Regions from separate parts of the Homo sapiens genome. Here region 1 is linked to region 2. Evidence: fine-mapped expression QTL. A gene starts in region 2. The other region holds a variant in brackets. All regions are shown on one strand. Distances are between the middles of the regions.

Region 1 (15,126 bases), 37 kb after region 2:
CGCCTTGGCCTCCCAAAGTGCTGGGATTACGAGCCACCACGCCCAGCCTTTTTTTTTTTTTTTTTTGAGATGAAGTCTTGCTCTGTTGCCCAGGCTGGAGAGCAGTGGTACGATCTTGGCTCACTGCAAACTCTGCCTCCCAGGTTCAAGCGATTCTTCTGCCTCAGCCTCCCATGTAGCTGGGATTACAGGCATGCCACCATGCCCGGCTGATTTTTGTTTTTTTTGTTTATTTGTTTGTTTGTTTTTGAGACAGAGTTTCATTCTTGTTGCCCAGACTAGAGTGCAATGGCACAATCTCAGCTCACCGCAACCTCTGCCTCCCGGGTTCAAGCGATTCTCCCGCCTCAGCCTCTCGAGTAGCTGGGATTATAGGCATGCACCACCATGCCCCGCTAATTTTGTATTTTTAGTAGAGACGAGGTTTCTCCATGTTGGCCAGGCTGGTCTCGAACTCCCGACTTCAGGTGATCCGCCTGCCTCAGCCTCCCAAAGTGCTGGGATTACAGGCGTGAGCCACCGTGCCTGGCCTAATTTTTGTATTTTTAGTAAAGATGGAGTTTCACCATGTTGGCCTGGCTAGTCTCGTACCCCTGACCTCAGGTGATCCGCCCGCCTCGGCCTCCCAAAGTGCTAGGATTACAGGTGTGAGCCACCGTGCCCAGCCAACACTTTACGTGTTTTTTTCTCATTTAATTTTTACTACAACCTTATAAGGGTGATGATCTTGTTATGATCCCTATTTATAGATGAGGAAACTGAGACCCAGAGAAGTAACTCAGCCAGTGAGCCAGCATCTTGGGCCTGTGTCCTCATCAGCTCTGCTTTTTTTTTTTCCTTTGAGATGGAGTCTCACTCTGTCACCTAGGCTGGAGTGCAGTGGCACGATCTTGCTCACTGCAACCTCCGCCTCCCAAGTTCAAGCAATTCTCCTGCCTCAGCCTCCTGAGTAGCTGGGATTACAGGCTGCACAACACCACACCCGGCTAATTTTTGTATTTTTAGTAGAGACGGGGTTTCATCATGTTGGTCAGGATGGTCTTGAACTCCTGACCTCGTGATCCACCTGCCTCGGCCTCCCAAAGTGCTGGGATTACAGGCTTGAGCCACCGTGCCCAGCCAGCTCTGCTTTCTTCCATGCAGTCAAACCCGTCTGATTGGCACCTCTTCCTCCTAGGCTCCCTGTCCCTGGCCTTCCCATTTCTCACCCGTTTTTGGTTCCAGCTGGTCTCTTCTAGTCACCTCCACACAGCTGCCAGAACAACTTTTTCCTTCATTTTTTAAGCTTTGCTTTTTTTTTTTTTTTTTTGAGACAAGGTCTCACTCTGTCGCCCAGGCTGGAATGCAGAGGCGTGATCACGGCTCACTGCAGCCTTGGATTCCTGGGCTCAGTCAGCCTCCTGAGTAGCTGGGACTACAGGCATGCATCACCATGCTCAGCTAATTAGTGTTGTTATTCTTTATAGAGACAGGGTCTTACTATGTTGCCCAGGCTGGTTTCAAACTCCTAGGCTCAAGCGATCCTTCTGCCTCAGCCTCCCAGAATGTGAAACCCTGTCTCTACTAAAAATACAAAAAATCAGCGGGACGTGGTGGCACATGCCTGTAATCCAGCTATTAGGGAGGCTGAGGCAGGAGAATCACTTGAACCTGGGAGGCGGAGGTTGCAGTGAGCCGAGATCGCGCCACTGCACTCCAGCCTGGGGGACACAGCGAGACTCTGTCTCAAAAACTAAAACAAACAAACACACAAAAAGAAAACCCTGATGTGGGCCTGTGGACTGGGTCTGGGTCTAGACAGTGCCAAGCAGTTGTATACCTTTGCTAATATAAAAATGGTAGCAAGCATTTATTGAGCACTTACTGTGTGCCAGCCACTGTGCTTTACCTGCATCCGCTCATCTGACCCTCACAACAGCCACATGAGGTAATTACTATCATTATCCCCATTTTACAGATGGGGAAACTGAGGCCCATGGAAATGAAGTAGCTGGCCCAAGGTCAGGATTTGAACCCAGGCAGTCCAAGCCCAGAATCTGTGGCAACTTAGCATGCATTCCCTCTGTCTCACGTGTCATACTTTCCTGTCCACCGCATCACCCTCGAGCTCCCACATCAGTGTTCCCTCCTCTGCTTCCTGGGGCACAGCCAGGTTCCTGCTCTCTCCTCTCTGCTCCCATGGCCCTCTGCCCTCTGTGACTGGGGCCTGTGACCATCTGTTTCCCCCACTGTCTGTGCTGCTGGCACAGAGTGGCTGTTCAGGGGATGTTTGTTACCTTGACGTTCCAGATCCCGGGGGCATAACTGCTGGCAGCACCGACGAACCCCCAATGCTGACCAAGGAGGAGCCTGTTCCAGAACTGCTGGAAGCTGAGGTGAGAGAGGCCAGAAGGCTGGACTCCTGGGTCTTGGAGGGAATGGGGGATCTGGGCAGTCGAAGGCTTGGAGCCTGCGTCCTGAGGGCCTGGAGGAGAGGCAGACCTGGGACAGAGCTGAAGGCTTAGGGGCTGGGTTCTTGGGACTGAAAAAGAAAGGGTGTTTCAGAGACAAAGTGCTGAGGGCTGGATCAGGGCTGATTGAGACCATTAAAAGCCTGACAAAGCTGGGCGTGGTGGCTCACGCCTGTAATCCCAGCACTTTGGGAGGCGGAGGCGGGTGGATCATGAGGTCAGGAGATCGAGACCATCCTGGCTAACACGGTGAAACCCCGTCTCTACTAAAAATACAAAAATTAGCCGGGCGTGGTGGCACGTGCCTGTAGTCCCAGCTACTCGGGAGGCTAAGGCAGGAGAATTGCTTGAACCCGGGAGGCGGAGGCTGCAGTGAGCCAGGATCGCGCCACTGTACTCCAGCCTGGGTGACAGAGCGAGACTCCTTCTCAAAAATAAATAAATAAATAAAGCCTGACAAAATCATGGCGCTCCTCCATGCATTTTCAAAAAATATCAAAAAATATCTAACTGTATAATTAGCATAAGAAAATTCCTTATAAACCTCTGACATTTCTCACGAGGCTACCTCGAGGCATTTTCAGAAATATCAAATATCAGGTTCGTTCCTCCACACAGTGTCACTGTCGTTGTTGTTTTTGGTGCCTGCTTCCTCTGCATCCTGGGCATCTGGCCCTGGGCTTGCCTCCCGGGCCCAGGAGGGGAGGGGAGTGGAGGCTTTGGAGAAGGCAGAGGCTCAGAGGCTGGACGCCTGGGTTCTGTGGAGCTCACGCCTGTCCACCCTTCCTCTCCAGGCCCCCGAAGCTTACCCTGTCTTTGAGCCAGTGCCACCTGTCCCTGAGGCAGCCCAGGGTGACACAGAGGACTCGGAGGGTGCCCCCCCACTCAAGCGCATCTGCCCAAATGCCCCTGACCCCTGAGAAGCCGGCCTGCCTGTCCTGTTGCCCCAGGGGCCCCTTTGGCTTTTTACAAATAAAGACCCTTTTGTAATTTTGTGTCATGTCATTTCCCCGTCAGGGCTGGGGAGGGTCTTTGGAGACAGTTTTGTCTCATGCACCATTGCTCAGATGTGGTCACTGAGGCTCTGAGAGGACCTTCCTGTAGTGACACCACAAGGCAGAGTGGGGTGGGGGCTTGAGCCAGGACCCTGCCTCTCAGTACTTCCCAGGTCTGTCCTATCTCCCGACCTTCACCTCCTCCTCTGGGAGGCCCAGGACCCCTCTTCCTGCTCAGCCCTCGCCTGGGCCTAACAATTATCAAAACTCTGGGTAGCTAGGCCATGATTCTTTTTTTTTTTTTTTTTTTTTTGAGACACAGACTTGTTCTGTTGCCCAGGCAGGAGTGCAGTGGTGCGATCATGGCTCACTGCAGCCTTGACATCCCACCTCAGCCTCCCAAGTAGCCGGGACCACAGGTGTGTGCCACCATACTCAGCTAATTTTATTTATTTATTTATTTATTTATCACTATTTTTTTTTAGAGAGTTTTGCTCTTGTTGCCCAGGCTGGAGTGCAATGGCGCAATCTCGCCTCACTGCAAACTCTGCCTCCTGGGTTCAAGCAAGTCTCCTGCCTCAGCCTCCTGAGTAGCTGGGATTAGAGGTGCCTGCCACCACGCCCGGCTAATTTTTGTATTTTTAGTAGAGACTGGGTTTTGCCATGTTGGCCAGGCTGGTCTCAAACTCCTGACCACAAGTGATTTGCCCGCCTCGGCCTCCCAAAGTGCTGGGATTACAGGCATGAGCCACCATGCCCAGCCTGCTAATTTTATTTTTTGTAGACATGGGGTCTCGCTACATTGCCCAGGCTGGTCTTGAACTCCTGGGCTCAAGTGTTCCTCCTGCCTTGGCCTCCTAAAGTGTTGGGATTACAGGCGTGAGCCACCGCGCCCAGCCTATTCACGTTTCATACATAATAACACAGAGGCCCAGAGGGACTTGGGGGCCTGGGATGACCAACCCATTCCCTGCCCTGAAGAAGCCACTCCTCCACCTGGGATGCCTGGCCACACTTCTGGTTGGGTCTAACTTATCCCCATCTCAATCACCATCTCCTCCGAGAAGCCTTCCCTGACTCCAGGCTCAGTGAGTTTCCCCTTTTTTGAGCTCCAGCAACCCCTTGGGCTTCATTCTCCTTGTTTCATCATTTATCAGGCTGTTCTGGGATCCGTGGTTTGTGTGTCTGTCTTGTCTACGAGGCTGTGGGCTCCTGAGGGGTCTCCACACAACACTGGGAACAGGGCAGTCCCAGCAGCTGCTTCATGAATAAATGAATACATGAATGGGCTGGGGTTTTCCAGGCAGGCTTCTCTGAGGAGGTGGCATGTGAGCTGGGCTCTGAGACATGAACCTCTGTGCTAGAACTCAAGTCAGAAGCCCTGGTTCAAGTCCTGGCTCTGTTACTCCCTGAGTGGCTCTAGGCAGGCTGTTTCTACTCTCAGCCTTAGTTTGTTCATCTGAGCAATGGGAACAATAACTAGGCCTCATCTGCCCCAGGGGTTTGTGGGAAGCTTCGAGTAATATAAGGCCCTCTCACTCTGTGCCTATAGGGTCATGTATATTGGCCCTATTTTTATTTTTAATAAAGAAAGATACTGAGGTTCAGAGAGGACCAAATTGGAACTTTAAAGAAGCATTAAAAACTGTAGGCTAGGTGTGGTGGCTCACACCTGTAATCCCAGGCCTTTGAGAGGCACAGGTGGGAGGACTGCTTGAGGCCAGGAGTTTGAGACCAGCTTGAGCAACAAAGCAAGACAAAAATGAAAAAATTAGCCAGGCATACTGGTGCGCGCCTGTAGTCCAAGCTTCTTGGGAGGCTGAGGTGGGAAGATTGCTTGAGCCCGGGAAGTTGAGGCTGCAGTGAGTGATGATTGCACCACTGTGCTCAAATCTGGGCAACAAAGCAAGACCCTGTGTCTAAACAAACAAAGGAAATGTAAGGATGCTTCCGACAGCAGCTGCAGTGGTGTTGGTGGAGCCAGTGCTGTCCAGGGAAGCCAGGCTTGCTGCAATGTAGTGTAACTGTTTCTTATCACTGCTGTAACAAATTGCCACACATATAGGGGCTCAAAGCCACAGACATTAGCCAGGCACAGTGGCTCATGCCTATAATCCCAGCACCTTGGGAGGCCGAGGTGGGTGGATCACCTGAGGTCAGGAGTGTGAGACCAGCCTGACCAACAAGGTGAAACTCCGTCTCTACTAAAAATACAAAAGTTGGCTGGGCATAGTGGCGGGCGCCTGTAATCCCTGCTACTCGGGAAGCTGAGACAGGAGAACTGCTTGAATCCGGGAGGTTGCAGTAAGCCGAGATCGCACCACTATACTCCAGCCTGGGTGATGGAGCAAGACTCCATCTCAAAAAAAAAAAAAAGAAAAAGCCACAGACATTGATTCTCTTACAGTTCTGGAGAAGTCCAAAGTTAGTCTCACTGGGTTAAAGTCAAGGTCTCAGCAGTAGTTCCCTCCAGAGGAGGATCTCTTTCTTTGCCTTTTCCGGCTTCTAGAGGCTACCTGCAGTGTAGCATCTTCCAATCTCTCTCCATCGTCACATCTTCTCTAACTCTCCTGCCTCCTTCCTCCAAGGACCCTGTGATGACACTGGGCCCATTTGAATAATCTAGGACACTCTTCCTATCTCACAATCCTTAGTTTCATCACACCTGCAAAAGCCCATGTGCCATATAAAGCAACACATGCACAGATTCTGGGGATTCAGATGTGGACTTCTTTGGAGGGCCATCTTCATGGTAATGTCGGCTGTTTGCTGGGTGTGTGGCCACCTCATGACTCCCCTCAACCACTCCCGAGGGAGGAGAGTGTTCTGTAAATGGGAAAGTCCCTTGTGTGGGTTAGTGGTGCAGTGTTGAAGCTCAGAATTCAGGTTCCGGGTTTGAATCTCAGCATCTGCATTCATTTGTTGTATCACCTTGAGCAAGTGACTGAACCTTTCTGTGCATCTGTTTTCTCATCTATAAAATGGAGATAATAGGCCAGGCATGGTGGCTCACACCTGTAATCCCAGCACTTTGGGAGGCTGAGGTGGTTGGATTACTGAGGTCAGGAGTTCAAAACTGGCCTAACCAACATGGTGAAACCCTGTCTCTACTAAAAATAGAAAAATTACTTGGGCATGGTTGCGGGGCATCTGTAATCTCAGCTACTCAGGAGACTGAGGCAGGAGAATCTCTTGAACCCGGGAGGAGGAGGTTGCAGTGAGCTAAGATCACGCCATTGCACTCCAGCCTGGGCAAAAGAGGGAGACTCTGTCTCAAAAAAAAAAAAAAAAAAAAAACAAATGGAGATAGGAGATAATAGTGACATCAGCCTGATGAGAGTATTCTGAGAGTTAAATTAGGCCACACATGGAGAGACAGCCTTTGGCCTGGGAC[G/A]TAGTAAGTGCTCAATAAATGGCAGGTTTTGTCCTATTGCCCCATGTTACAAATGAGGTTACCAGAGACTCTCCTGTCCCTGAGGCTGGGGACAGAAGCCTGGCCCCAGACAGGGTGTCCATTTCTGAGCAGCCTTGAGAAGCTAAAGTTTGAGTCTCCCCCATTCTTGACTCTCTCCTGGTCACGGGGCCTAGGAAACTGTCCTGATTCCCCCCAGGCATGCCCCCACCCTCTCATGCCCCATTCTTTGACCTGGCTTTTTTTTTTTTTTGAGACGGAGTTTCGCTCTGTCGCCCAGGCTGGAGTGCCGTGACGTGATCTTGGCTCACTGCAAGCTCCGCCTCCCAGGTTCACGCCATTCTCCTGCCTCAGTCTCCCAAGTAGCTGGGACTACAGACACCCACCACCTCGCCCGGCTAATTTTTTGTATTTTTAGTAGAGACAGGGTTTCACCGTGTTAACCAGGATGGTCTCGATCTCCTGATCTCGTGATCCGCCCGCCTTGGCCTCCCAAAGTGCTGGGATTACAGGCCTGAGCCACTGCGCCCGGCACTTTGACCTGGTTTAAAAGCCAGTTTGGGCCTGGCGTGGTGGCTCACACCTGTAATCCCAGCACTTTGGGAGGCCAAGGCAGGCGGATCACTTGAGGTCAGGAGTTCGAGACCAGCCTGGCTAACACGGTGAAACCCTGTCTCTACTAAAAATACAAAAATTAGCCAGCCATGGTGGTGCATGCCTGTAGTCCCAGCTACTCAGGAGGTTGAGACAGGAGAATCACTTGAACGTGGGAGGCGGAGGTTGCCTGGGCAACAGAGTGAGATTCCATCTCAAAAAAAAAAAAAAAAAAAAAAAAAAAAAAGCCAGTTTGGCTGGATATGGTGTCTCACACCTGGAATCCCAGCACTTTGGGAGGCTGAGGCGGGAGGCTGAGGCGGGAGGCTCGCTTGAGCCCAGGAGGTTGAGGCGGCAGTAAGATATGACTGTGCCACTGCACTCCAGCTTGCATGACAGAACGAGACCCTGTATCTTAAAAAAAACAGTGAACATGGTAAATTTAAAAAGCTATCTCTTCCAGAGCCACAGCCCTTATTTACCACCTTGCTGTCTCCCCTTTCCACCTCCTCCCCAAATTCCACACTCTATTTGTGGAAATCCTTCTACCCCTGGCTCTCGGGCCCCACCTCTGGGGCTCACTGACTCCTCCCCTCTGAGCCCTCATCTGTCCTTGGGCACTCCCCTCTTCCTGGTCTGGGAACTGTCTCTTGCCCTGGACTTGCTTCTCTTTGTGCACACTCTCCCTGCTGGGTCCCACCTGCCCTTTGAATCAACAGTTCCTCATTCTCTGACTCTAAGTTCCACCCCCACCTCCAGACTCCAGGAGCCAAATGGCTGCATCACATCTCCATTGGGATATCCCAGAGACCCCAGCCTCATCCTCCCCACAACCTATTCCTACCATCCCAGGAGCCAGCCAAGATGGTGACACCAGAAGTCAGAGTCACCTTCCAGGAACCACCACGTCCTGTTAGGTCTCTGTCTTAAGTAATTTTCCAGTTAGCCCCTTTCTTCAGGGCAACACTGCTTTACTAGGTGCCAGCAAAACTAACAGCCTCCTGGTGCCCACCTCCAATCCATGCTCCACCCAGTAGCTGGGCAATCTTTCAGAAACCCAAATCTGTCCATGCCACTGCCCCCAGTTAGAACCTTCCTGTCCTTACTACCTGCAGGATGGAGCCCACAGCCTGCTGCATACCCACACCTGCAGTCACTCTCTGAACTGCTCACAGCCCCCAGATGCCTGCTGCCATCTCTCACCCCTTGGGTTTTGCTCACACTGGCTGCTCCACCAGGAAAGCCCCTCCCTTCCCCTCTTCGCCTGGCAGATGCCAAAGCAGTTTTCAAGTCTCAGCTTCTGGGGTGTCTCTTCTGCCTTCCCTCAGCCCCTGACCCCTCCTCTGCTATGTCGTGAAGTGGTGGCTGTTGCTTTGTAGTGGTCCCTGTCTGCTTGGTTCTTCAGCACCAGCCTGCAAGCCCCAGGAGGGCAGAGGATTCCCTTTATTCATAGCAATAGGTACTTATTGTGTACTTACTGTTTGCTGGGCACTGTTCTAGGACCTGAGGATGCAGCTTAAAGAACACAGAATAAATGGCCGGGCGTGGTGGCTAGCACTTTGGGAGGCCGAGGCAGGCAAATCACCTGAGGTCAGGAGTTCAAAACCGGCCTGGCCAACATGGTGACACCCCATGTCTGCTAAAAATACAATAGAATTAGCCAGGCCTGGTAGTGGGTGCCTATAATCCCAGCTACTCGGGAGGCTGAGATGGGAGATTCACTTGAACCCTGGAGGCGGAGGTTGCAGTGAGCCGAGATCGCACCACTGCACTCCAGCCTGGGTGAGTGAGATTCTGTCTCAAAAAAAAAAAGAACACAGGAAAAAAAAAAATCCCTGCCCTCATGGCACCTGCCTTCAGGCAGTTATATCCTAAGCAGGAAGTTAGAGTGCGCTGGAAAAAGCAAGCACAGAACGGGAGATGGGGAGAGAGCAGGGTGTGATTTTAAGCGGGGGCGAGGCAGGGGCCTCACTGAGGCAAAGGCTGAAGAAAAGCTGGAAGGAGGTGAGGGAGAGAGCCTTGCAAGTTTCTGGGGAAGGGCATTCCAGGCAGAGGGAATGGCCAGGGCAAAGGAGAGCCAGTGTGACTGGAGCGGAGGGAGGGAGGGGCAGGGGAGTGAGTTCAGGTCAGCTGGGCCTCGCAGGCAGGGCAAGCACTTAAATTATCCTTCACACTGGGAGAATGAAAACAAGGGCAGTACTAATCACGCTGGGAAGGCAGGCAGAAGCTGGGCCAGCAGAACTTATGGTCGCCCTGCTCAGAGGCCACTGTCAAGACTTGGCTTTTCCTCTGGGTATCGTGGAGTGTTCTGAGCAGAAAAGCATAATCAGACTTAGGTTTTGTTCCTAATTTTTTGTTGTGTGTGTGTGTGTGTGTGTGTGTGTGTGTGTGACGGAGTCTCACTCTGTCACCCAGGCTGGAATGCAGAGGTGCAATCTCGGCTCACTGCAACCACTGCCCCCTGGGTTCAAGCGATTTTCCTGCCTCAGCCTCCCAAATAGCTGAGATTACAGGCACTCGCCACCACACACAGCTAATTTTGTATTTTTAGTAGAGACAGTGTTTCACTATGTTGGTCAGGCTGGTCTTGAACTCCTGACCTCAGGTGATCCACCCGCCTGGGCCTTGCAAAGTGCTGGGATTACAGGCATGAGCCACGGCACCCGGCCTGCAGGCACATTGTTAACTACAGCCCAGTATTCATTCACAGGTTTTTTCCCCCGTCTTTGATGTAAAATATCTATATAGTAAAATGCATAGGTGTTAATTGCTTGATTCAGTGAATTTTAACAAAAGCATAGTGCCAGGTGCGGTGGCTCACTGGGAGGCCAAGGCAGGAAGGTCATTTGAGTCCAGAAGTTTAAGACTATCCTGGGCAACATAGTGAGACCTCATCTCTACAAAAACTTAAAAAAAAATTAGCCGGGCATGATGGTGCACACCTTTAGTTCCAGCTACTTGGGAGGCTGAGGTGAGAGGATCACTTGAGTCCAGAAGTTCAACACTGCAGTGAGCTATGATTGTACCACTGCACTCTAGCCTGGGCAACAGAGCAAGACCCTGTCTAAAAAAAATAAAAATAAAAATAAAACCAGAACAAAACAAATGCATACATCTGCATAAGGAAACTGTTCTCAAATACAAAACATCACTATCACTTGCCAGAAAGTTCCCGTTGCCCCCTTCTCATCTCCAACTCCCCAGAGTCAACCGCTGTTCTGACTTTTTTTTTTTTTTTTTGTATTTTTAGTAGAGACGGGGTTTCACCATGTTAGCCAGGATGGTCTCAATCTCCCGACCTCGTGATCCGCTCACCTCAGCCTCCCAAAGTGCTGGGATTACAGGCATGAGCCACCGCGCCCAGCCTGTTCTGACTTTTTTAATAAGACAGGGCCTTGATCTGCTGTCCAGTGTGGAGTGCAGTGGCATGTTCACAGCTCACTAATTTTTTTTTGTATTTTTTGCAGAGACGGGGTCTCACCATATTGCCCAGGCTGGTCTTGAACTCCTGGGCTCAAGCGATCCACCTACCTCTGCCTCCCAAAGTGCTGGGATTACAGGTGTGAGCCATGCACACAGCCTTTTTGTTGTTGTTCAAACAACTTTAATGATGCCACAATGTCTGTCCTCCCCCAAGTAACTGGGTAAAGTGTTTTTTTTTGTTTGTTTGTTTTAGATCATAGCTCACTGCAGCCTTGAACTCCTGGGCCCAAGTGATCCACCTAAGCTTCCCGAGTAGCTGGGACCACAGGCATGTGCTACTGCGCCCAACTACTTAACATTTTTTTTTTTTTGAGACGGAATCACGCTCTGTCACCCAGGCTGGAGTGCAGTGGCGTGATCTTGGCTCACTGAAAGCTCTGCCTCCCGGGTTCACGCAATTCTCCTGCCTCAGCCTCCCAAGTAGCTGAGACTACAGGTGCCTGCCACCATGCCCAGCTAATTTTTTTGTATTTTTAGTAGAGATGGAGTTTCACCATTTTAGCCAGGATGGTCTCGATCTCCTGACCTCGTGATCCGCCCGCCTCAGCCTCCCAAAGTGCTGGGATTACAGATGTGAGCCACCGTGCCCAGTTTTTTTTTTTTTTTTTTTTGTAGAGAAGGGGAGTCTCTCTGTGTTGCCTAGGCTGGTCTGGAACTCCTGGCCTCAAGGGATCCTCCTGGCCTCACAAAGTGCTGGGATTACAGGCGTGAGCCACCACACCTGGCCTGATTGTTTTAAAGTAACGGATTGGGTGAACCTGTTCTGGAACTTCATGTAAATAGAATTAAGCAGTATGTAACTCTTTTGCATCTGTTTTCTTTTACTCAGGCTAATATTCTTGAGGGTCATCCGGATTATTGTGTGAATCAGTAGTTTGTTCCTTTTTACTGCTAAATTATATTCCATAGGCCAGGATCACTCTGCTGGGTGGAGAAGAGATGGGCCCTGCCAGGGCTCAGAGACTCAGGTGAATGCACCACAGGGAGATGGACAGCCTTTTCTTAGGAATTTCTAGAATGCGAAGTCTGTGGCATCAGTCTCCCCAAAAATCTGGGAAAACAGAACTACATCAGGAGAATCTAGCATGACCAAGCATCCCTGTTTGCCCAGGACTTTCTTGGTTTTAGCACTGCAGGTTCCATGTCCCAGGAGACACCCCAGTCTTGAGCAAACTGGGATGGCTGATCACCATCACCCTAGCAGGATCCTGCCACTGCCCTTGGGGCTTCCGGACCCTTTTCACACAAGATTACATTCTGTTCCTCCTACAGAATGATTTTCCTTAAACTCTAAACTGGGCTCCTCTCCTGTTCTAAAACTTCCCATGGCTCCCCATGGCTGAGCCTGGCAACTGAAAGCACGTAGTCTCTGGTAGTGTGCATACTGGAATCACCTGGGGAATCATTTAAATATTCTGATGGCTGCCTTCTACCCTTGACATTTTTTTTTTTTTTTTTGAGACGGAGTCTCGCTTTGTCACCCAGGCTGGAGTGCAGTGGCACGATCTCAGCTCACTGCAACCTCTGCCTCCCGGGTTCAAGTGATTCTTCTGCCTCAGCCTCCTGAGTAGCTGGGATTACAGGTGCGTGCCACCACGCCCAGCTAATTTTTGTATTTTTAGTAGAGACTGGGTTTCACCATGTTGGTCAGGCTGGTCTCAAGCTCCTGACCTCGTGATCCACCCACCTCGGCCTCCCAGAGTGCCAGGATTACAGGCGTGAGCCACCACGCCCAGCCACCCCAGACATTTTTGTTTTTTTTGAAATAGAGTCTCGCTCTGTCGCCCAGGCTGGAGTGCAGTGGCACGATCTCGGCTCATTGCAACCTCTGCCTCCTGGGTTCAAGTGATTCTCCTGCCTCAGCCTCCCGAGTAGCTGGGACTACAGGCGCGTGCCACCACACCCAGCTAATTTTTTTAAATTTTTTTATTTTTAGTAGAGACGGGGTTTCACCGTGTTAGCCAGGATGGTCTCAATCTCCTGACCTTGTGATCCGTCTCCCTCGGCCTCCCAAAGTGCTGGGATTACAGGCATGAGCCACCACACCCGGCCCCACCCCAGACATTTTACATTGGTATCATGTGCAACCTGGGCCCTGGGATTTTTTGTTTTGTTTTGTTTTTTTGAGTCTTGAGTTTAGCTCTATCGCCCAGGCTGCAGTGCAGTGGCATGATCTTGGGTCACTGCAACCTCCGCCTCCCAGGTTCAAGCCATTCTCGTGCCTCAGCCTCCCAAGTAGCTGGGATTACAGGTGCCTGCCACCACACCCGGCTAATTTTTGTATTTTTAGTAGAGATGGGGTTTCACCATGTTGTCCAGGCTGGTCTCGAACTCCTGACCTCAGGTGATCCACCCGCCTTGGCCTCCCAAAGTGCTGAGATTACAGGCATCAGCCACTGCGCCCGGCCAAGGGCCCTGGGATTTTTACAAGCTCCTCAGGTGATGCTAACATGCTGCAAAGCTTGGAGCTGTGAGCCTGTGAATGTGATTTGTTTGGCTTACATGGTGTTGAACATGTTGGCAACATTAAAATCAAGTGATTTCATATAAAAATCTGGACTAGGCTGGGCGCGGTGGCTCACGCCTGTAATCCCAGCACTTTGGGAGGCCGAGGCGGGTGGATCACGAGGTCAGGAGATCGAGACCATCCTGGCTAACACGGTGAAACCCCATCTCTACTAAAAATACAACAAATTAGCTGGGCGCGGTGGCGGGTGCCTGTAGTCCCAGCTACTCGGGAGGCTGAGGCAGGAGAATGGCCTGAACCCAGGAGGCGGAGCTTGCAGTGAGCCGAGATAGTGCCACTGCACTCGGGCCTGGTGAAAGAGCGAGACTCCGTCTCAAAAAAAAAAAAAAAATCTGGACTCAGGCCGGGTGACGTGCCTCACACTGTAACCCCAGCACTTTGGGAGGCTGAGGCAGGAGGACTGCTTGAGCCTAGGAGTTGAGGCTACAGTGAGCTATGTGTTGCTACCCTTCAACCTGCGCGACAGAGCAAGATCCTGTCTCTACCAAAAATAAAAAAAGAAATCTGGACTCCAGCTACCCTTGAAAGCAGATATTCTGAGATACTGAGTTTGCCTCCTGGAGTGGTCATGGGGCGGAGGTTGGTGGGGTAGGGGGGTAGGGGGTGCAGAACACTGACTGCCCTGGGGGCGGAGTCTCTGCCCTTCAGTCCCCGCAATCCCTACCGCTCCCTGGTGTTCCACTCTCCTCCTTGCTGTTCACTTGCATGGCCTCCAGGCTAATGGCTGAGTTTTGCGGCCAGGCATTTCAGGCCTCCCAGCCTTGGCCTCTGCTCACCTTCTCCACCTCCTCACTCCCTGCTCTAGTCATCTTCATCTCATGTCCTGCCCTCCAGCCACATGGGCTTCTTGGTCCCTTCCACACCTGTTTTTGCCCATGGAGTTCTCCCACCAAGTTCCTTATGGTAGAAAAGCCCCTGCTGGATTTGGCCCCTGCCCACCTCTCCTGCCCCTTTCCCCAAGCTTTCTTCCAACTCATGCATAGAACTTCTACCACAAGGAAGCTGGCCAGGCTGTTAGCACTCCCGTTCCCTCTGTCTGTGAAGCCCTTTCCTTCCCTCCACCCTCCCCTTCTCTCTCTTATCTCAGGCTTTGGGTTTGATTTCACCTCCTCCAAGGTTCCCTGACCTTCAAACTAGGTCAGGTCCCTGGTTAGTCACTATACTTCCTCTTTCTCACCTCCTTCATCTCACTTCCCCTGCTAGAATAAGGCCACATCTGTCTCATAATCTCTGTCTTCCTAGGGCCTAGTGTGGTGCCTGGCATACAGTAGGTGCTCATTAATGATAAATGAATGAAAGCAAGCACATCTCCCTTTCTCTACTGGCAAAATCCTAATCCTTTTCTGGTTACATTTCTCCTGTAGCATCCAATTCTGTTCTCGAGACCCAAAAGATCCCTGAGGTCCTGTGATCAATGGAGTTTTAGCTCAGGTCCATTTCACAGTGGGCCCAGGGGATCCCCAGATTCATCCGTGGTTATTTCCCCAGGCACAGAGTGAGTGCACTGGTGGCACAGGCATACCCAGCAAGTGGCATAATCCCCCCCATTAGTTAACTGGGTGTCGCTGTGCATGGCTGTGAAGGCAGGGATGCACCTGGCTGGTGACCCCAGAACCCCTCCGGGTACGGCACAAGGGCAGAGCCCAAGAACTTACTTTCTGTCCT
Region 2 (14,504 bases):
GGAGGGCAGTGAGTGGGGGGTTGGCCAGGAAGCCCAGAGCCAGGGTGATCCCCCACTCTCTGCTCCCTGACAATCTGCCCCACCCCAGACGCCGGGGTCCCAGGGCCATCACCTTCAGGCAGCCGGGGTGGACGATCTCGTTGCAGATTGTACACTCCATGAGGCTCAAACCAAATTTCTCTTCCTCTCCCTCCACCGTGTCCTCCTTCCCAGCCTCCCCACACAAGAGGCACACAGCTGTGTGTGGGAGCACGGGCTGTTGGGGGAGAGGGGACATCAGGGGCCCCGAAAGCTAACAACAGGGGAAAGACCCTTCCTTCTAGGGACCCTGGCCAGGTGACGGATGAGGTGCAGCACCCACGGGTCAAGCTGGGTCTGATCCTGAGTTTGCTCCTTTTGGGAGTGTGACCTCAAGCAACTGATTTAACCTCCTTAAGTCTCCGTTTCTGCATCTGCAGAATGGGGCTAAGAATCTTTCCCTCGCAGGACTCTTGGGAGAGCAAAATAATACGCGAGAGACACTGATATGTAGCTGTTATCACCTGTGACTGTTATAGCTGGACCCAGGGCCAGTGGGACCCTGAAATTACAGCTGGCTTTGGAGAGGAGGACAGTAACACTCAGAGGGTGGGGAAGACAGCTTAGGGTGATACCAAGGTCGCTCCATGAGCAGCCCAAGGGTTGCTCTGAATCCCACAATGAATCCGGTTTTGGCAAGACCCCCTGGGAACACTAGGGAAGCCACTAGTCTTGGGGAAGTGGGGGCAGCCTCAGACAGTGTGACTTTGAGGAAGACAGTGGTAGGACTGAGTCATAACAAGGATGCGGCAGGATCAAGGAAGATGCAGGTAGGGGGAGAAGGAAAAGTGAGGCAAGGGGTTGGGGGATAAAGGAAAAGAAGTGAGGGGCTGAGGGGTGAAGAGACCAACCAGGAAAGAGTGGCAGGAGGAAGAGAGGGAGGTGGCAGAGTGGGGAGGGGGACGCAGGATGCAGCTGGCTCCTCGCGGCTGCTGGGGAGGGGCCGTGCTCTGGAGCCCAGGGAGGCTCAAAGGATGAGGAAGGCAGGGCGGAAACCCATGCTTCCCCGATCCCTACTGTGTGCTGGGCCTTGTGGTAGACACACTCGCATCCATGCCATTGTTTAATCTTTACAACTCAGCAAAGGAAACATTTTACAGAGAAGGAACCTGAGGTTCATTCAGCATGATTTGCTCAAGGTCACATAAAGGGTGAGCTTAGCCTCAAATCCAAGACCACCCTGGGTGAGGAAGAGGCCAGAGAAGGGCAAGACCTGTTGGAAGGGGGCCATCTCTGGGGATGGGCCCCCTCCTGCACAGAGACATCTTGGGGGGTGATAGAGCAGGGGCTGGGCATTCTGCGGGGGTGTGACTCTGAGAGCTGGGAAGAGCCTGAAAGTGGGGACTGGGTCAGATCCTTCTGTGCACCTGGACACTGCCCCCAGCTTGGAGCTGAGGACAAAAATGGATACTGACACAAACTAGTGAATGAAGGGAAGAAATGAACGAGTGAACAAACAGCCACTCCACAGTACAGGCTGGGAGGCAGTCACCAGCCATTCCAAGAAGGTATTGGGAAGGGTGGGCAGAGCCCAAAGGTGGGGGCAGAACTCACGGCAGTGCACTGCCGGAGCAGGCACGACTGCTTCATGCGCCCGGGCCCCCCGAACTTCTTCATGTCTCGGCAGAAGTGGCAATCCCCGCACTCAGTTCGCACACAGGCCCGGCAGCGGCGGCAGCGGGTTCGGCGTCGGCGCGCTCCGGCCCCCGGCCCCCGGCTGCTCGACGACATTGGGGGCGTCAGCAACGCCGAGGGCTGTAGGTGGATGGTGGCAGGGTCAGATGGGCCCACTGGGGCCCTGGCCTGGGAGACCCCTGACAGGTCCCTCCACCTACAGGCAGCTAGAGCCTGCCCTCTTCCTCAGGGGGACAAGGAGGTCACCCCCTTCTGTGTATCTGGGGGCCAATCCTCTACTCAAGGCCTGTCTCCCTGCAGCAGCTCAAGAGGAGCCCAAGAACTGCTTCCTGGCCTCGCTCCTCTACCGCCTCCTCAGGGTCCCTTCCCTAGCCCAGGGAGCAGGAGGGGACACCGAGGCCCTCTCCTCTGCCATCCCCACACCGGAGCTCCTTGGAAAGGCCAGGCACTCCTTGTCCGTGGTGTTAGCTTGGAGAGATCCCAACTCTTCCCCTGTTATCCGAGTGTAGAATATCCCAGGCTCTCCCCAACCTCAATCTGGGGTAAACTGCCCAGATTCACCTCCCAGATACCCAGAGATTCCTAGACGGAAGCTCCGGACTTTTCCTCCCCCCCGCCCCACCAACCTTTTCATCCACAGCAGCCATCCAATCTCTCTTCCCCTCAACCCAGTTATCCTCACCAGATCCAGCGAGATCCTTGCCCCCAAGTCCCTAACGATCTCCTCTGCCCACTAACTCCCCAGAGCTCTGACAGCCCTGGAGATGCTTCTTCAGAGACCCTTCTCAGCCCAAGATCTCAGCCCCTCTTGTTCCCCACAGGGTTCCCTCCTCCAGGACACCCTCCTCTTGGATCCCTCAGGTCCACCTGGGCAATCTCCCAAATTCCTTGGGATTCTAGAATCCAGCCTGACATCTTCCCAGAACTGAGGATGGGCTCAGTCCTAGGACCCCCAGCTTCCCGGGCTGCTTTCATCCCTAATCATCTAGAATCCCTTGGGCTCCCCCTCCCATGGAAACCAGATCCTCCAAGATCCCATGTGGAATTAGAAGCCTGGAGGGTCTCTTCCCAGTCAGTCTTACCCCAGATTCCCCCTTTCCGGGGACTTTCATACCCATCCATGGGGCTAAGGGGCCCTCCAGCGCTCCAGGGGAGGGGCCTGGAGGGCGGCGACTGCAGGCGGGGGTGGGGGCTTTCAAGGGGAAGCAGGGTCTAGGAAGGAGGGCCAGTTCCCCAGGGTGGAGAGGTCATAGGAAGGAGGGCTGGAGATGAGTTTGGAGTAGAGAGAGGGTGAGGCTGGGGGCGGGGAAGGTAGAGAGAGGCCGGGCTGAGGATGAATGGGAGTGGGCGCTGCCCAGGTCTGGGGGTGAGGAGGAGCCGCATGAACCCACCTCACACGTGTCCCGGGAGCCATCTCTCCCTTCTCGGCAGCTCCCGGCGGGTCGGCGGCCATCGGCGGCGGGGGGGCCGGGCGGCGCGGGGCGCGGAACGCTCAGAACGCCGGGGTCCACGGCCCCCCGAGGGCGCTCGGCCCCTCCCTCCGGCGGAGGCCGGGACGGCGGCGAGTGGAGATGGGGGGCGCCGGGGGCGAGGCCCTCCCACGGGCTGCGGCGCGGCCCTTCCAGGGGGAGGTCCTGCTCTGGGAGGCTCAGTCCCTCAGCCCCCCCAGGCCAACGGGGGCTCCTTGGGCGCAGGGTGCTCAGCTTCTGCCCGGGGCCCACTCAGTCCCGGGTCCGAGTCCCAGCTCCCCTCCCCCCACCCCGCCCCGCCTCTCCCCAGCGCCCCTGGCCCTTTAACTGGCCCCTTCCCGGACCCCACTGCCCAGGGGTCCAGTGCCAGGCCTGGGCCCCCCCCACCGTTTCCGGGGTTCAAGCCCGCCCACCGCCGGTTCCCGGGGAGGGGGGGGTCGCTGTAACCTGCCCCCCTCCCCTGGGCCCGCCCCTGGACTGCGACCCCCTGCCCTACGGCTGCGAGGCGAGCGGAGGGGGAGGTGAAGGAAGCTGCTCCGGCCCCGCCCCCCCCAGCCCGCGCGCACCCCCGACCTCTCCCCCTCCCCCAAGCGCGCGACCCTCGGGAGATAGGGATTTAAATAAAATTTGAATAAATCCCCCTCCTCAAGCGGGAGGGTGGAAGGAAAGGATAGAGGGGGAGAGGGAAAGGGGAAGGGGGCAGTTGGGGTGTCTCAGCCCCCCTGGTCCCCCAGCCCCGCGCTGCTACGGCCCGGGGCCCTGGCCGCCTCTCTCATCCCTCCTCAGCTCCTTCCTCCTTCCTCCTCTCTTCCCCCCTCCCCTCCCCTCCCTCCTCCTTCCCTCCTCCTCCTCCTCCTCCCCCTCTTTACTCCCTCCTTCTCCCAGAGGAACCCCGCCCCCTTCCCCCTCCTTCCTCCACCACCTCCACTTTCCAGGACGAACGCACGCAGGGCTCGACGGGAGTTGTAGTCCTGCGGCCACTGATGCTACGGGGGAACAATAGGACGCTGGGGACAGCGGGAACTACAAACAGGACGGCGGAGGGCGTGCCCAGCCGGGAGCCGAGGATGCCGGGAGTTAGAGTCCCGTTGCCCCGAGGCTCCCAGTTGCAGAACATCGAGAAGGAGAGGGAACGATGACTACAAACAAGATGGCCTTCTCCCCCGACCCGACCTCCTTCCCAGGCACTCACACGCCCTCCTGTCCACAACCCTCCGCGTGTGTGGTACCTGACGGGAGTCGCAGTCCATCTGCTGCCTTCCCGCTGCCATTTCTACTCGTCAGGAACAATGGAAAGGTGAAAAGGAAAGAGGACTACAAGCAAGATGGCGGAAGAGGGACATACACCTGACTAGTAGTCGATCTTACGAGGTGCGATGGGATTAGTAGTTTTATAGCCTTCCAGTGTTCCTTAAGAATGGCGGAACCAGGAGGACGAGGAGACTACCGTAAAGATGGCAGGCTACCTAGCCTCTCCCGGTCTCCGCTTTCCACCACCTTGGGCACCTCGCCCGCCTGTGGTCTCGAAATCCCCCCCACCAGTGGCGCACGGCCTGACGGGAGTTGCAGTCTCCCGGCTCCCGTCTATCATCTCAAGTCGAGACAATGGAAGGGGATGGGGCGGGGCCACCGGCAAAGATGGCGGCTGCAGGGCCGGGGCGACTGCGACATGGGATGTGTAGTCCAGGCGTCTGGCCTCTTCCCTGCGGAAATGAGGGAGAGGACTACGAAAAAGATGGCGACCTCGCCCCTCGACCTCTGCGCCGGTGCCTGCTGGGAAATGTAGTTCCTTGCCGAGTCCAACAGAGAAAGGACGTCGCTGTTGAAATGTGAATCCCGGCGGACACGCCAAATTGCGAGGCGACGGAAACGGAAAGACTCTTTTCTCCTCTCTCCGCCACCGGCTTCTGAACAGCCTGGCGGGAAATGTAGTCCCAAGCTTTCACTCGCGAGTGGAGGGGAAGGATTTATGTCACCAGTGGGGATCAGTGCGGGTGGGGGAGAAAAACGTCGGGCGATCCGGGAATAAAGAATGTCCGCCTCTCCATGGGGCGAGGACTTCGCGTTTCAGGGGAGGGCCCTTAAAGGAAGGCAGCAGGAATCAGTCTTGTCGAACAGGGGGGCGTGGTTCTCGTCGAGAGTGCATTCACACTCTTGTTCCCTAGAAAGCCTGGGCACCTCCCACTCGATTCCTGCTCCTCAGACCTCCGGGAATCAGTGTCTTACAAGACGTGCGGGCTCCGGGGAAAAGGACCTGGAGTCACAGCGAATCCCCGCCCCGCCCCGGGAAGCCACCAAACCTTGCTTTTTCTCATCTGCAAAATGGGGACAATGGGGATAATGATCCCCACCTCGAAGCACAGTTGTGAGTGTTAAACAAGCCAATGTTCTTGTCACCAAAGTGCCCAACTCTGGCACGGGGCACGCGGTGGTAGATCCCTTTCTAAGGTCCCTTCCAGCCCAGCCGTTCTGGGAGCCCAGGAATCCATGATGCCGGACAGAGTTCGCTCCTGTGAGAAGAAAACTGACCCGCAGGCTCCTCCCAGATTGAACCGACCCCCGCCCCTCCTCATCGGGGTCCTCCAGCGTCTGTTACCGAGCACTGCTCCCAGGGGGCGCTCAATCTCCATTCGACTGAGGTACTACAAACACGATTTCCGCAACCTGGAGTTGGAGGCATTGCAGGCTGTCCAGCCTCATCCCCTGCCTGATATCCAGTCAGCCTTGGAGGCCTCTGCCTAGACACTTCAACTGCCTATGCAAATGGAACGGCTTCTCATCTTTCTGCCGTTTTTTGGTTTTTTTTGTGTGTGTTTTAAGGTCTTGCTCTGTCACTTGGGTTGGAGTGCAGTTGCAGGATCATAGTTTGCTGCAGCCTCGACCTCCTGGGCTTAAGCGATCCTCCTCCCTCAGCCTTGTGAATACCTGGGACTTCAGGCACGCGCCACTACACCCAGCTAATTTTTAAACTATAATTTTTTTTTGTTCAGACGAAGTCTCGCTATGTTGCCCAGGCTGGTCTCGAACTCCTGGCCACAAGTGTGCCTCCCGCCTTGGCCTCCCTAAGTGTTGGGATTATAGGTGTGAGCCAGCAGCCATACCCCTCTTCTCAATCTTCCTTCTCCCCTGGAAAACCTGCTCACTTCTGACCCCAAGACAGCCCCCTCCCCTTCCCTCTGTCTTCTGTGTTTGGCAGACCAGCCCCAGCGAGGACTTGTTGGTTGTGGTTTTTCTATCAGGGAAGTCAATGGCTGGCCAGTGTAGTGTGAAGTCCCAGCTTGGCAGAGACTTGCCCAAGGCTGGATAGGAGGCTTCTTTGCCGCTCAGGCTTTATCAGTCAGGAAATCCTTAGCCCTCCCTAGAGGATTGGCTGTCCCCTCTATCCTCACTGCTTGAATTTGGTGTTGCATGATTGATTTCTACCCTGTTCCCTCTGCTTGAGGGCTATCCTCCCCATGCCCATCTCACTTCTCCACCAAGTTCACTGTTCATCATTTACAGGTCTCTATTTATGTATTTATTATTTATTTTTCTACTTTCCCACTTTTCTAAAAGGTCTCTATTTAAATGCCACTGTCAATCCCAGCACTTTGGGAGGCCTAGGCGGGCGGATCATGAAGTCAAGAGTTCGAGACCAGCAATGGCCAGTATGGTGAAACCCTGTCTCTCCTAAAAATACAAAAATTAGCCGGGCATGGTGGAATGTGCCTGTAATCCCACCTACTCGAGAGGCTGAGGCAGCAGAATTGCTTGAACCCGGGAGGTGGAGGTTACAGTGAGCTGAGATCGTGCCACTGCACTCCATCCTGGACGACAGAGTGAGACTCTGTCTCAAACCAATCAATCAATCAATCAATCACTGTCCTGGCCAGTTGCAGTGGCTCACGCCTATAATCCCAACACTTCGGGAGGCCAAGGTGAGAGGATAACTTGAAACTAGGAGTTCAAGACCAGCCAAGGCAACATAGTGAGGCCCCATCTTTACAAAAATACAAAAATTAGCTGGACGTGTAGTCCCAGCTACTTAGGAGGCTGAGGGGCAAGGATTGCTTGAGGCTGAGAGATTGAGCCTGCAGTGAGCTATGACGATGCCACTCGCTGCATTCAAGTCTAGATGACAGAGCAAGACCCTGCTCCTGGACATACTACTAAGTGCTTTCAGCATTTCATGTGGTCCTCATAAAAATCTTGAGGGCCGGGCATGGTGGCTCACGCCTGTAATCTCAGCACTTTGGGAGGCCAAGGCAGGTGGGTCACCTGGGGTCAGGAGTTCGAGACCAGCCTGACCAATATGGTGAAACCCCATCTCTACTAAAAATAGAAAAATTAGCCAGGTGTAGTGGTGTGCACCTGTAGTCCCAGCTCTTCAGGAGGCTGAGAAAAGAGAATTGTTTGAACCTGGAAGGCGGAGGTTGCAGTGAGCCAAGATCACAGCACTGCACTGCTGCCTGGGCGACAGCGAGACTCTATCTCAAAAAAAAAAAAACCCACACAACCTTATGAGGTAGAATTCCATTTTAGAGACGAGGAAACTGGGACCCTCAATTATGCAGAATGGATGAGTGGTACCGCCAAAATTCAAACCCCAGACTCCCGAACTCATGCTCAGAACTATTACAACATGCAGAAACAACAAATCCAGTCATGTGTGCATTTAATTTGGCATAGCAACAACAACACATTTCTCAGGCAAAATGGATTTCCAGCTTCTCTTGAAAAGTCCTGAAATCTAGTCCAGGACCGTGGATTGTATTTAAAAAAATAAAAATAGAAGAAGAAAAGGCCGGGCATGGTGGCTCATGCCTGTAATCCCAACACTTTGGGAGGCTAAGGCAGCTGGATCACTTGAGGCCAGGAGTTCAAGACCAGCCTGGCAAACATGGTGAAACCCCGTCTCTATTAAAAATACAAAAATTAGCTGGGCGTGGTGGCGTGCACCTGTAGTCCCAGCTACTCAGGATCCTGAGGCATGAGAATTGCTTGAACCTGGGAGGCAGAGGCTGCAGTGAGCCAAGACAATGCCACTACACTCCAGCCTGGACAACAGAGCGAGACTCAGTCTCAAAAAAAAAAAAAAAAAAAAAGGGCCGGGTGTGGTGGCTCATGCCTGTAGTCCCAGCACTTTGGGAGGCCAAGGTGGGCGGATTACCTGGGGTCGGGAGTTTGAGACCAGCCTGACCAACATGGAGAAACCCTGTCTCTACTAAAAATACAAAATTAGCCAGGCACAGTGGCACATACCTGTAATCCCAGCTACTCAGGAGGCTGAGGCAGGAGAATCGCTTGAACCGGGGGGGCAGAGGTTGCCGTGAGCCAAAATCATGCCACTGTGCTCCAGCCTGGCAACAAGAGTGAAACTCAAAAAGAAGAAGAAGAAGAGGAGGAGGAGAAGGAGAAGAAGAAAGGAAGAAGAAGAAGAAGAAGAAGAAGAAGAAGAAGAAGAAGAAGAAGAAGAAGAAGAAGAAGAAGGAGAAGAAGGAGAAGAAGAGGAGGAGGAGAAGGAGAAGAAAGGAAGAAGAAGAAGAAGAAGAAGGAGAAGAAGAAGAAAGAAGAAGGAAGGAAGAAAGAAGAAGGAAGGAGAAGAGGAAGAAAGAAGAAGAAGGAAGAAGAAGAGGGAGGAGGAAGGAGAAGAAGGAAGGAGGAGGAAGGAGGAGGAGGAAGGAGGAGAAGGAGGAGGAAGGAGAAGAAGGAAGAAGAAGGAGAAGGAGAAGAAGAAGAAGGCGGTTTTTATAGCTTCTGCCTAGAAGTGACATGTCAATTCAGCTCACATTTTATTGACCTGTCAAATAGCTAACCCTGGCCAGGCAAGGTGGCTCATGCATGTAATCCCAACACTTTGGGAGGCTGAGTTGGGCAGACTGCTCAAGCCCAGGAGCCCAAGGCCAGCGTGGGCAACTTGGCAAGGCTGTGTCTCTGCAAAAGAATACAAAAATTAGCTGGAGTGGTGGTGCACATGTGTAGTCCTAGCTACTCGGGAGGCTGAGGTGGGTGGATCGCTTGAGCCCAGGAGGTCCAGGCTGCAGTGAGCCATGATCGAGCCACTGCACTCCAGCCTGGGCGACAGAGTGAGACCCTGTCTAAAAATATTACAGAGATAGGCCGGGCGTGGTGGCTCACGCCTGTAATCCCAGCACTTTGGGAGGCCGAGGCGGGTGGATCACGAGGTCAGGAGATTGAGACCATCCTGGCTAACACGGTGAAACCCCGTCTCAACTAAAAATACAAAAAATTAGCCAGGAGAGGTGGCGGGCGCCTGTAGTCCCAGCTACGCAGGAGGCTGAGGCAGGAGAATTGCGTGAACCCCGGTGGGTGGAGCCTGCAGTGAGCCGAGATCGCGCCACTGCACTCCAGCCTGGGCGACAGCGAGACTCCGTCTCAAAAAATATGTATATATATTACAGAGATAGCCATAACTAATTAAAGGGGTTAGAGAAGCCAACTCTTGCCACATGCTTGGGAGAAGAACTAGAAAACCTGTGGACAGCCCTTATGACAAGCACAGCTTCCTGCGGTTCCCAGGGGAAGTTAGTGCCACAGGATGGAGGCTTTTTCTGGGATACCACCCACTGCAAGGCACCCAATAATTGAACTCTTGTTATGTGGGATGGCAACATCGATATAGAACAGAGGAGTCTGATTGACACTGACCAACTTGGGCGAGTGAACGGAAAATGCCTCTGTGAGAAGCTCAGGGTCAGCCTTGGGATCAGCAATCACCAAAAAGCCAAGCTCTCCAAGCTGCAGTGGATCTGGTTACTGAAAATCCCAGAAGTGAAGTGCCCAGCAGTGTGTATGGCTTCAGATGGCCGAGGAACATGTTAGTAGACTTCACTGGCCAGTGATCCTGGGGGAATGGATGGCATCAATGGCTGGGTTTGGGTTTATTTTCTTTTTTTAGACAGGGTCTTGCTCTCTTGCCCAGGCTGGTGTGAAGTGGTGCAGTCATAGTTCAATGCAGCCTCGACCTCCTGGGCTCAAGTGATCTTCGGCCTCTGGAAGTGCTGGTATTATAGGCATGAGCCACCACACGAGGCCAATAGCGGGGTTTCTACTGGCAAAATTAAAAAAAAAATCAAAATCAACTGGGTATGGTGGTGCCCACGTGTAGTACCAGCTACTCGGGAGGCTGGGGTAGGAGATTGAGCCTGGGAGGTCAAGGCTGCAGTGAGCCATGACTGAGCCACTGCATTCCAGCCTGGGGAACAGAATGAGACCTCATCTCTAAAAATAAAAAATACAAATAAATAAATACATAGTTGGCTACCATTGAAAATATTTAAATATCAATCTAAGATTAAATAATTTAAAAAGTCTGAGGTACAGAATGGAATATACTATACATGTTATGAATACTAGTAAATTGAAAGTAGTAATATAATGAAAAAATCTGGGTGTAGGGGAAGACTGAGGAAAATATTAAAAATAAATAGCGACTGGGCTGGGCATGGTGGCTCATGCCTGTAATTTCAGCACTTTGGGAGGTCAAGGCAGGCAGGTCACTTAAGCCCAAGAGTTCCAGACCAGCCTGGCCAAGATGGTGAAAACTGGTCTCTACTAAAAATGTAAAAACTACCCGGGCATGGTGTCGCATGCCTGTAATCCCAGCTACTCGGGAGGCTGAGGCTTGAGGATCGCTTGAACCTGGGAGGCAGAGGTTGCAGTGAGCCAAGATCGCGCCACTGCACTCCAGCCTGAGCAACAGAGTGAGACTCCGTCTCAAAAAAAAAAAAAAAAAATGAACAAAGACAGGATTTGAGCCAAAGCCCACTGCCTCCTAAATTGCTGGGATTCCCAAGAATTCAGCTTCTAGTGTGACCAAAACAAAGATGGAGACAAGTCGCCCTGCAGGGTAGGGCACAATGGAGGTGGGGGTGGGAGGGCAGAGCTGCTGACCTCTGACCTCTGCCAAGGCAGACGCATTGGACAACAGAGCAGGACCTGAGGTGAGGCTAATTCCTCCAGGTGTGAAGAAACACCTTAGGGGGGCCAGGCGCAGTGGCTCACACCTGTAACCCCAACATTTTGGGAGGCTGAGGCAGCCGGATCACCTGAGGTCAGGAGTTTGTGACCAACCTGGCCAACATGGTGAAACCCTCTACTAAAAATACAAAAATCAGTTGGTGTGGTGTCAGGCGCCTGTAATCCCAGCTACTCGGGAGGCTGAGGCAGGAGAATCACTTGAACCTGGGAGGTGGAAGTTGCATTAAGCCAAGATTGTGCCACTACACTCCAGCCTGGGCAACAGAGCGAGACTCTTGTCTCACAAAAATAAAATTAAATAAATAAATAAATAATGAGTTTATCCTTCATGGTTTTCAAATCTTTTTTTTTAAACTTGGAAGAATCTTACAGGAAATATTATTTATAGTGAAGAAACATTTATCTGAAGTTCCACAGTTCTTTCAATTAAACTTCTATTTCTGTTCCTTTTGTTAAATTCAAATAAAGTTAAATGTAATTTTAAAAATAGGATATCTAGTATTAATTGATTGTCATAAAATCTTTTTCTATTTATCTGATCAGGTGTCTAGAATGATGCTCACTAAATGTTAACAGTCATAGTTATTTCTGGGTGGTAAAATAGGGTGGTTTGTTGGTTTCTTCTTTGTTCATTTATGATCTGCTTCAAGTTTTCTAATGAACAGGTATTTTAACAATAATGATAACGTTATTAATCTTTTTCTTAAGTACTATTTTTTTTTCTTTTTTGAGACAGAGTCTTGCTCTGTCGCCCAGGCTGGAGTGCAGTGGCGCAATCTCAGCTCACTGCAACCTCCACCTCCCGGGTTCAAGATGGGGTTTCATCATGTTGGCCAGGCTGGTCTCAAACTCCTACCTTGTGATCTGCCCACCTCAGCCTCCCAAAGTGCTGGGATTACAGGTGTGAGCCACCGTTCCCGGCCTTTTTTTTTTTTTTTAAATACAGGATCTCACTCTGTCACCCAGGCTGGAGTGCAGTGGGGTGATCACAGCTCACTGAAACCTTGACCTCCCAGGCTCAAGTAATCCTCCCATCTCAGCCTCCCGAGTAGCTAGGACTACAGGTGCACACCACCTTGCCTGGCTAATTTTTGTATTTTTTTGTAGAGACAGGAGTCTTGCTATGCTGCCCAGGCTGGTCTTGAACTCCTGACCTCAAGCGATCCCCTCACCTTAGCCTCCCAAAGTGCTAAGACTACAGGTGTGAGACACTGCGCCCAGCACCCTTGCCTCTGTTCTGAATGGGCCCCACTGTGTGGTTTTCTGGACAACACTGGGTCATGCTTGAGCAAAGGTACCAGATCTCTTGGGAGCACATGTGTAGCCGGGGCATGGGGCTGGGCTCCAGGCACAGGCTCATGGGACATTGAGTCTTTGCCATTGGTTGGCGGCATTATATGTTACTGGGGCAACCCTTGACAAGCCCAGGAGAGGCCTCATAGGAGGGGTCAGGGCACTTGGTGGGTGTGCCCTGTGAGTTAGAACCTGTGAGTGGGAATTATTATCCCAGTTTCCAGATAAGGGAGCAAACTGAGGCTCAGAGAGGTTAAGGAACTTGTCCAAGCTAGTGATAAACAAAGGCAGGAGCTGGGCGCAGTGGCTCATGCCTGTAATCCCAGCACTTTGGGAGGCTAAGGCGGGCAGATTGCTTGAGGCCAGGAGTTCAAGACCAGCTTGACCAACATGGCAAAATCCCGTCTCTACTAAAAATACAAAAAATTAGCCGGGCCTGGTGGCACACACCTGTAATCCCAGCTACTTGGGAAGCTGAGGCTCGAGAATTGCTTGAACCTGGGAGGCAGAGGTTGCAGTGAGCCAAGATCACTGCACTCCAGCCTGGGTGACAGAGTGAGACTGTCTCAAAACAAACAAACAAAAAAGATGAACAAAGGCAGGACTTGAACCGAAGCCCACTGCCTCCTAAATTGCTGGGATTCCCAAGAATTCAGCTTCTGGTGTAACCAAAACAGAAGATGAGCTGGCCTGCAGGGTGGGGCACGATGGGGGTAGAGGGGGCAGAGCTGCTGACCTCTGACCTCTACCGAGACAGATGCCTTGGACAACAGAGCTGGGCCTGGGATGCGGCTAATTCCTCCAGATGTGAAGAGCACCTTGAGGGGGCTGGGCGTGGTGGCTCACGCCTGTAATCCCAGTACTTTGGGAGGCCAAGGCAGGAGGATCACTTGAGGTCAGGAGTTTGTGACCAGCCTGGCCAACATGGTGAAACCCCGTCTCTACTAAAAATATAAGAATTAGCCAGGTGTGGTGGCATGTGCCTGTAATCCCAGCTACTTGGGAGGCTGAGGCAGGAGAATCACTTGAACCCAGGAGGTGGAGGTTGCAGTGAGCCGAGATCACACCACTGCACTCTAGCCTGGGTGACAGAGCAAGATTCCATCTCAAAAAAAAAAAAAAAAAAAAAAAAAGACAGGCCCATGGCTCACGCCTGTAATCCCAGCAATTTGGGAGGTCGAGGAGGGTGGATCACGAGGTCAGGAGATCGAGACCATCCTGGCTAACACAATGAAACCCCGTCTCTACTAAAAATACAACAAATTAGCCGGGCGTGGTGGCAGGCACCTGTAGTACCAGCTACTCGGGAGGCTGAGGCAGGAGAATGGTGTGAACCCAGGAGGTGGAGGTTGCAGTGAGCCTAGACCATGCCACTGCACTCCAGCATGGGCAACAGAGCGAGACTCCGTCTCAAAAAACAAAAACAAAAACAAAAGCCACCTGGGGTGGGGGTCAGAGAGAGAGAAAGGGAAGCCCCAGAGAGAGGCGGGTGGTGGTGGGCTCTGGTGGGGTTAGCCTGCCCTCCCAGGTGAGGCCTGCCCCATGTAGGCCGTCCACCTGTGAATAGTACCAGATCGAGTATCTGCCTCACTCTCCCCCTCCTGTACCTCCTCTTCCCCCTGCTCTACTACCATGGCACGGCCCATGCCTCGGTGCACCCACTTAATGGGCCTCCTATAATCCCCTGATATCACCACCTGCCTGGCACAGGCCCTGCCGGCCAGCCCTAGCAGCCCCCAGCCTTGGAGAGCCTGTTTAGGACCCCTCACCTCAGAATCCATCTTTTCCTTCAACCTCCTCCTTCCTTCAGCTCACAGTTCAGATCTGGAACCCCACAGCCAGCCCCAAGCTGGGGACAGGAGTCCAGCATCTGCCCTGACTCTGCTGTGTGACTCCAGGTAAGTAGCCGCCCCTTTCTGGGCCTCAGGCTCCTTATCTAAGTATTCCGAACACCCAGCTCATCACACCAACCTGTCTGGGCTTCTTCTCAGCACCATGTCACTTTAGGAAACCTTGCTGTGTGTTAATTCACATGTTTCGTGCTGGTCT

Direction of the effects. Alleles are on the strand shown, and positions count from the first base shown. SD is a standard deviation of normalised expression in the study named.
In carriers of allele G in region 1, the expression in monocytes after LPS of the gene that starts at base 3,992 in region 2 tends to be lower than with A alone (moderate effect, 0.64 SD a copy in Quach 2016).

What was found. PIP is the estimated chance that this variant, and not a neighbour inherited with it, causes the effect.
Region 1: its variant is fine-mapped to the expression of FBXL19 in monocytes after LPS (Quach 2016, PIP 0.95).

What each region holds. Positions count from the first base shown.
Region 1 is chr16:30,876,109-30,891,234 of GRCh38, reverse strand. BCL7C (BAF chromatin remodeling complex subunit BCL7C) reads left to right here. Exons shown (of 6, transcript NM_004765.4): 5 at 2,290-2,375; 6 at 3,245-3,440. The coding sequence ends at 3,370. It overlaps MIR762HG (MIR762 host gene), which reads right to left. Exons shown (of 3, transcript NR_110942.1): 2 at 15,117-15,126. Among named protein-coding and RNA genes, the nearest start is that of MIR762HG, 8.2 kb to the right of the region's middle. RefSeq lists enhancers at 3,278-3,779, 8,095-8,595, 14,982-15,126 and silencers at 6,211-6,290, 15,003-15,062. The variant G/A (reference allele first, on the strand shown) is at 6,840.
Region 2 is chr16:30,913,060-30,927,563 of GRCh38, reverse strand. FBXL19 (F-box and leucine rich repeat protein 19) reads right to left here and starts at 3,992. Exons shown (of 11, transcript NM_001382779.1): 1 at 3,105-3,992; 2 at 1,633-1,833; 3 at 113-256. The coding sequence starts at 1,809. It overlaps FBXL19-AS1 (FBXL19 antisense RNA 1), which reads left to right and starts at 4,295. Exons shown (of 1, transcript NR_024348.1): 1 at 4,295-8,245. RefSeq lists enhancers at 4,074-4,233, 4,274-4,363, 3,986-4,953, 4,394-5,213, 4,954-5,922.